2 linked regions of the Homo sapiens genome follow. The protein of the gene in region 1 interacts with the protein of each later gene in a pairwise test. Each region holds a gene or a part of one and is shown on either strand. Other genes may lie near its edges.

Evidence for each region.
Region 2: the proteins of CDCA7L (region 1) and GPRASP3 interact in binary tests that used the Homo sapiens proteins (3 or more experiments, as listed by UniProt).

The regions. Positions count from the first base shown.
Region 1 is NC_000007.14:21,904,359-21,908,013, forward strand, and holds part of CDCA7L (cell division cycle-associated 7-like protein), read right to left. Parts: intron 2,282-3,655; coding exon 2,210-2,281; intron 2,099-2,209; coding exon 1,931-2,098; intron 1,274-1,930; coding exon 1,148-1,273; intron 1-1,147. UniProt on the Homo sapiens protein: Plays a role in transcriptional regulation as a repressor that inhibits monoamine oxidase A (MAOA) activity and gene expression by binding to the promoter.
Region 2 is NC_000023.11:102,748,180-102,751,834, reverse strand, and holds part of GPRASP3 (G protein-coupled receptor associated sorting protein 3), read right to left. Parts: intron 3,137-3,655; 5' UTR 2,840-3,136; coding exon 1,196-2,839; 3' UTR 1-1,195. UniProt on the Homo sapiens protein: Survival and differentiation promoting protein that plays a role in the regulation of neurosynaptogenesis. Induces phosphatase PP2A activity which results in APP dephosphorylation and inhibits BACE1-mediated processing of APP.

The DNA.
Region 1 (3,655 bases):
CCCCGTCTCCTCGAATCAAGCAGGACTGTTTTCCTAAGAACCACAGCATTGTCTCTAGACCGGGGTCCCCAGCCCCCAGGCTAGAACCAGTCTGTGGCCTGTTTGGAACCGGGCTGCACAGCAGGAAGTGAGCAGCGGACGGGCGAGCATTACCGCCTGAGCTCTGCCTCCTGTCAGATCAGCAGCAGCATTAGATTCTCATAGGAGCACAAACCCTCTATTGTGAATTGCACATGTGAGGGATCTAGGTTGTGCACCCTTTATAAGAATCTAATGCCCGATGATCTGAGGTGGAACAGTTTCATCCTGAAACCATCCCCTTCCTGCCCCCCAAATCCATGGAAAAACTGTCTTTCACAAAACCAGTCCCTGGTGCCAAAAAGGTTGGGGACCACTGCTCTAGAATGTAACCATCACAGGTCTGTGGCCAGAGAAACATATTAGGTCAGATGAGGCTGAGCAGAGACCCAGAAGGAATGAAATGATCAGGCTGTCAGGAAGAGAGACCAGAGAAAAGCTTGAGGCAGGGGTGGCAGAGCCCCTGAAAGGTGACAGGTGACTGAGGGGCAATGAGCCTTGGGTGGCATCACCTCGGCCCCAGCCTAGCTCTGCAGACCTGGATACCTTCAATGTGAGATCTATTTTTTTTTAAATATTGGCAACTAAATTTAAAACTTGACAGTGTCCCGTTACATATCCAGAAAAACACAAAAAAAATGCAGAACGCAAAGCCTCCCTCTAAATCACCATTTAGAAGAAATTTAACCCATTTCCTACCAAAGATATTCTGCCAAACTTTAATTTCTATGGTTATATTACCCCCCAAATATACTTTTTTCAATATTTAGAACATAAAACTATATGCTTAAACCATTAACAGTTACATATAAAAATCCCTTTTAAACTATACCGTTCCCTTCCCCCAGATTCTACGCATCCCTAAGAGAGACCGCCGTCCAGATGGGAATTACTGCACTAGGCTGCCTCCCCTTTCCCAGGTACAGCTGACTTTTGACCCTCCAATTCAGAGCCTGGCTCTGAGCCCTTGGTGAGATGGCATAAGCCCTGATAGAGTTTAAAAACAAGTGAGATTTCAATACCAATGCCTTCGACTCCCAATAAGAATGACAATTAATGTATACTTTACCAGAACTTTATCATAGATTTTATCTCGAACAGTTATGGCAACATTTTCTAAGTCCTCTTCGGTGATATCCTCCACTGGCCGAAAAGAAGATATACGGTGACGTCGTCTGTACTCCCGGCATTTCCCCTGCACAATGAACACAAGCAGAACATGGAGATGTGTTGAGCAGTTATAAAAAAATTATAAATATTTTAAACTCTCAAAGATCTAGCACCATTAATGTTAACCCCGTCCCTCTTCTATTTCCCTGCAGCCATTTCATTTAGTTATTTACTGAGCTCCTGCCACCTGCCAAGCTTCCTTCTCAGCAAGGCGATACAATCATAAAGGAGGAACTCAAGGTTTTTGGTTCTTTGCTGTAAACTCTGTGGAGAGGTGAACCACACTGAACAGCCAAACCCACAAATGGGTCCACAGTTGCTCCCTCCAAACTGAAAGCGCTTGAAACGCCTCATGCCTAAAACAGAAAGGCAAGGAGGAATCACTGCACTTTTCTTTATTGCCTGCAGCAGAGATTAAAGCAGGGTCCTAACAAATGAGCTGCTTCTCAGCTCGGCTTGGATAAAAGACTCTCTCTGTGACCTCCAGCTTAGACCAGGGCTGCTTCTCAAAGTGTGATCTCAGGAGCAATGGCATCACCTGGGAAGCAGAGAGAAATGCAAGTTCTCAGCTGCCGCAGACCCACGGGGTCAGAACCAGCCCTGGGGTGACAGTGACGTGCGTTCACGTTTGGAGGGATGGTAGCTCAGACAAAAACTAATTCATGTATTAGTCAGAAAATACCCCAATTGTCTTCCTTCTTCGGAAGCTGTAAAACTCTTCCGCAAATTTAGCGGCTGAGACAGTGAAGTTCTCTAGAGCAAACTTCTCAGGAGGCCGCGCACTCCGGGTTGGGTTCATACGCCGCGTGATCTGTCCCTCCGAGAAGGCCCGCCTCACTGTCTTCTTCCTCTGAAATCAAGAGCACAGACAGAGACAACTGGGGACTCTCTCGAATAAAAGCCGTCTGGTGGCTGATCACCATATATCAGTATTGGTATAATTATAAGGAGTTCTACTTACAGAAGCTGAGGTTGGGGTTCGTACTGGGAAGAAATCTGGCATCGAGTTCAATTCCGCCAATAACTGGGCAAGCTGAAGTTCAGAACAAAAGAAAGAATCTTACAAAAATAGGGCTCCAGGTTTAGGTCATCCAACACCTATCTCAAGTCTTCCATTTTGCCACCATAAGAAACCTAACTTGAATAGTTTATATAACCCACAACAGTTATACTTTTAACCTCACATGTAAAGATTGTACCTCCAGACCTGAGATGCTGATGTCATCATTCATATGAATGAACACTAGCCTATTCCTTATATATAAGGACAACACAACACTATGAAAACAGTCCTGGAATGATCAAGACCTGGAGCATGAGGTTCCGATCCCGACTCGGAGGCTAATCCAAGGCGGTGTGACCCTGGGACAATTCATTTTGCACACGTGAGTCTCAAGTTTCAGGATGTTCAAAAAAGAAAAAGCTCAACTAGATTATTTCGATGGTTATTTAGAACTCCAAAAGTCTGATTCTTTAAATAGATTAATTTCTCATCAATCAAAGTAATCTATGAAGATATTCCTACGTGAACTAATAATACCAAATAATAGGCATTAATATGCCAGAGAATTTAATTAGGATTCGTTTTAGTTTATACAATTATATGAGTGCCACCAAAAAAATCATAAAGAAAATAGCTTATTTTAAAGATGCAGATGGATACAGTGCTGAAAATTTCCCTTAGCTAAGTAAAAATGTTTCTTAGGATAAAAATAATCCGAAAGTAGGCATTCCATTTTTGTAAGTAATTTATATTAGACATATAAGCTTGCATATACAGTATCACTGCATCATTCTTTTTTTAAAAGGAAAAGATTAAAAAATTACCAAAATGCTAAAAGGGATAAGTGGTAGAACTATTTAAAAAAAAACTGTAGATAAACAATTATGAAGCAAACAATGATTCTCTACAATGATCAGATTAACAGTAATTGATTATATACAGAAAAACCAAATATATGTAACAAAGATTTCACCTGGTTCCATTCATTGTTCTAATGAAGACAATGTAGAGTGAATTAACACTGTTGAGGTTGTTTTAATTCCTAGACCTCTTCCATTCCTTCAGAAGTCTCAGAACCAGTGCTGGTCACCATAGAAGAGTGGTTCTGTGGTGAAAAGCTACCTGCCCAACCTGCTCCTTGCAACTTCTCAGTGGACTTGGTGACATCCCACTTCCCCTGCTTTACTCTGCTGGGAACGGGCTAGTTGTTCAGCCCCTCTCATCCCCAACACAACTATATACTTAGAACTTAGCTTGGTCAACAGTAAGCAGCATTATGGCACCATGTAGGGGCTAAAAATGGTGCTGGGGAATCTCTTTCTGTTCCCAAACCAGAGCTGATCATGTAATAGTTGCTCTGGGTTCTGGAAAAGTAAAAGGATACACAATACCCAGAGTATATTT
Region 2 (3,655 bases), on another chromosome or scaffold:
GACATCTAACAAGTTTCCCCTGCTGATGACTCCAAATCTACATCTTACTCATTGAACAAAGTTTTAGGCTCCTACTATTTTCGACACTGCCAGATAAAATCCATCTATTTACCTCAGAATTTTCTCCTGACCTCCAGCCAGATGTAGCCAAATGTCTAATGGACACACGAATTTGGAGGAAGTTAAGAATTGTAACACCTGGCATGGACATGATCCATTGCAAAATTAAACCATTCAAACCAGTCTCTGAGCTTTGAAGGCCCCCCCACCTCAAAATGTCCTTCAGGAAGACTGTAAAGCAGTGTGGTGAGATGGGTTCTGGTGTCAGACAAAACAGCTATGCCACCTTCCTGCTGTGGGAATCTAGGAAAAGGTATTTAACCTCTCTAATTCTCATTGGAGGGTACCCAGAATAATGAGTTCTAATAAAAATATAAGTAACTAACTCACAAGATCACTGTGAGAAGAGGAAAAAAACTTGTAAAATATGGTGCCAACACAGTGTTTGACATAGAATAGGCACTCACAAAACGTTTCCTGCCTTCTCTTTTGTGAGATAACTTTGATGTAAATGAAACAGCCTAACAATTTAAGAGTTATGAATGTAGTAGCAAAATTAAAATTGAACAAATAATACATTTTGTCTGAGATTCTGAGTCATTTCTGTGTTGCGGAACGAGTATCTGATACAGCTGGAACAGGAGAAAAATAGTTTCTCTTACATTAAATAGCCTATAGGAACTCCTGCCTCCTTTATGTAGAGTGCGCACATTTGGCCATGAGCGTGCACGTGCACACACAGAGACACGCACACTCACACACACTCTCTCTCTAGGTACTGTTATCTTTGTGTGTGTGTATGCCTTACTTCTGTAACTAGATTACAAACTCAAGGATATTTTCTTTTTTGCCATTTTAAGCCACAGATACTAATGAACAAGTTAGCTTACTTAAAACGAACTGGTTTGCTATCTTAAGTAAAATGTTAAAAATATGCCAATCTAGACAAGATAAAAATCAAACATTTTCAGCCCAAGGTATAATATTCATTTGATACCCCCAAAATAGTCTAGCTCAAACCTAGAGCCTGTCACAGGTGACTCTGTGTTAAAGATGCAGTGTATAATGTGTACACTGTAATGTACAGCCTGCTAGAGTTTGAAGATGGCTTAAAATGTTCTATCTCTGGCTCATTTTACATTGTTTCAATAATCTCTTTAACTTCCCTGAAAATGGCCATGAGTGTATTATAACTCAAGTGATCAACAACTACAATTGAGCCTTTTCTGATATGCTCCTTTATGTTAATAAATATGGCCACACCACTAACAAGATTGGCTTTTGCCTCTTTCTGGTTAAAGATGAGTTTTAATGCTGCCAATGCCTTCATATTGATCATGTCTCTGGCTGCAGTTGGATTTTCAGACATATTTAAAAGTAGTTTCAAAACAAGATTTCTGGTTTTGCAATTTCCTGAGGACAGCAAATGGAAAAGCTCTGAAAAGTAATTGGCAACAATGTAGTGATGGACAAAATCAGTAGTCAGTTGTCCTAGTATCTTTAATCCAGATTGCTGTCCCGGTGAGTTCAAAGGAAATGACATGGTTTCTTTACACATATGCTTAACATGTAATTCAATTTTGCGTTGTCTTTCATCCCCAGAAGGAGGATTCAGAGTAATTACAGTCTTTTTTCTCATTTCAGGGGAAGGAAAACTGAGCAAGCTTTCAATAAGTGTCACTACACCTACTTCGTTAATAAACTCTTGGGCAAATGGGTGAACATTATGGACACCCATTGCAATCCGTGCTATTTTATGAATAAGAGGATCAGTAGTTGACTTAAGTAAGCTAACAAGTTTTTCAAATTCCTCAGAATCCATATAGCATTCCATTTTGCAAGGACAAGCAAATGGCTTAATCCCATTTACCTCCCTGATCCTGATTTGACGTCTAATCTCATCTATGGTCTGGATGCAGGGGTCAGAATCAAAACGACACTCAGGGATAGGCTGTGAGCATGAGCGAGTGTTCCTAGAAGGGCGGCAAGCTGTTGCCACAGGCAAAGAACAGGCATTTTCTTCAGCGGAGGCCAGAACAATATATGAAGGAGGGCTTGCCTCAGATGGTGCCTGGGATCTAAATCCTAACACAGCTGGAGTTACAGCAGGGGCATTGGGCCAGATAGTTACCTCAGACCAGTCCTTGGGCCTATTTTTTTCATTAATTTCATACACAGGCTGAGGCTTAACTATCCTGCTCACAGGTTTAGGATTAGGGTCAAAACTAGTATCATCTCCTTCCCAAAACCAGTTCCCAATAACATTCTCTTCCTCCTCCTCCTCAGCCCCTGACCTAGGTTTGCAATCGGCCCCAGCCGCAGGTTCCAACTCCTCAGCACAGACCTGGGCACCAATTTCAGGTTTATCATTCTTAGTGCTGAAACTATTACCAGCCTCTTCTCCATTCCAGAACCAGGAATTGATAGTGGCCTCTTCCCCAGCCCAGAACCAGGCATCAGTACCAGCCTCATTTTTACATGTGGAGCTGGTGGACTCATTCCCAGCCTTGGGAGTGAAATCTCCCATGGCTTTGCCCAGAGTCTTAGGCTCTGACAGAGCTCCTTCCTTCGTCTCAGCAACAACCTTGTTCTTAGACACTGCCTTCATCTCTGCTACTGCATCTGTCTTAGACCCTGTCTTGGCTTTTGCTTTGGCCCTGGTCTTGGCTACAGGCCTAACAACACCAGTAGCCTCCCTCTCTGCTCCAGCTTTAGCTTGTATAGCAGCCTTTTTTTCAGTTTTGGCCTGGGCTCTTGTCTTATTCTTAGTCCCAGCCATGGTTGAAGCCCAGTTATATGGCCCTGTCCAGTCTTGGCCTTGGTTCTCAATGTGTCCTAGGTCGAAGTCTTAACACTCTTTCACTGGGTCGGGGAAAAACTTGGTAGCAAGAATTAGAGTCAACTGTCAGTTCTGCAGTCACAAAGTTCTCTTTCCAAACATACAGCCTCTGTCAATGATACAGAGGGCAGAGGCACGCTCGGGCTGGGGGAGAATGATTGTTCCCAAGTGCAGACCTGCTGAAGGTGATGGTCTTCCAACAATCCAAAGCCACCACAGCCACCAGTGGAGATGGACCTGAGGTTGAAGAAAGAAACTGGCTTTGAGTCTTGTCTAACTGTGCTTCTCTATGCAAACAGCCACACAGAAGGACATAGGAGAGTAGAAATGAATTGTGTAGAAGTGGATTAATAAAAAACTCTGCTACTTAATTTTATACCTTGCACACTGCCACTAATGCTCAACAATGTCCTGCCCAAGCACTGTCATTCTTTTACTCTGCATCAAACAGGAACAAAGATGGCAGGTAAGCTTGCTGAGAGTGAGAAAGGCTAAAGGAGTGCCCAGTCTCTTTGGACCCATGCTAGTAGGTCCACCACTAAAATATATACCACTAGACCTCATAGGTGTATTCAGGCAGCACTCACACCAACCTGCACTGATCTAGTGCAATTTTTCCTCCTTCCCTGTTTGCAGTGTTGATATGCCCTATAGTTAACTCATGGGCAGGCCTATGGACAAAAATACAGATGGGATTGGAGTTCTGAGTATTTGGTTGACAGACCTACACTCTAATCTCTAAACCCAATTTCTGCC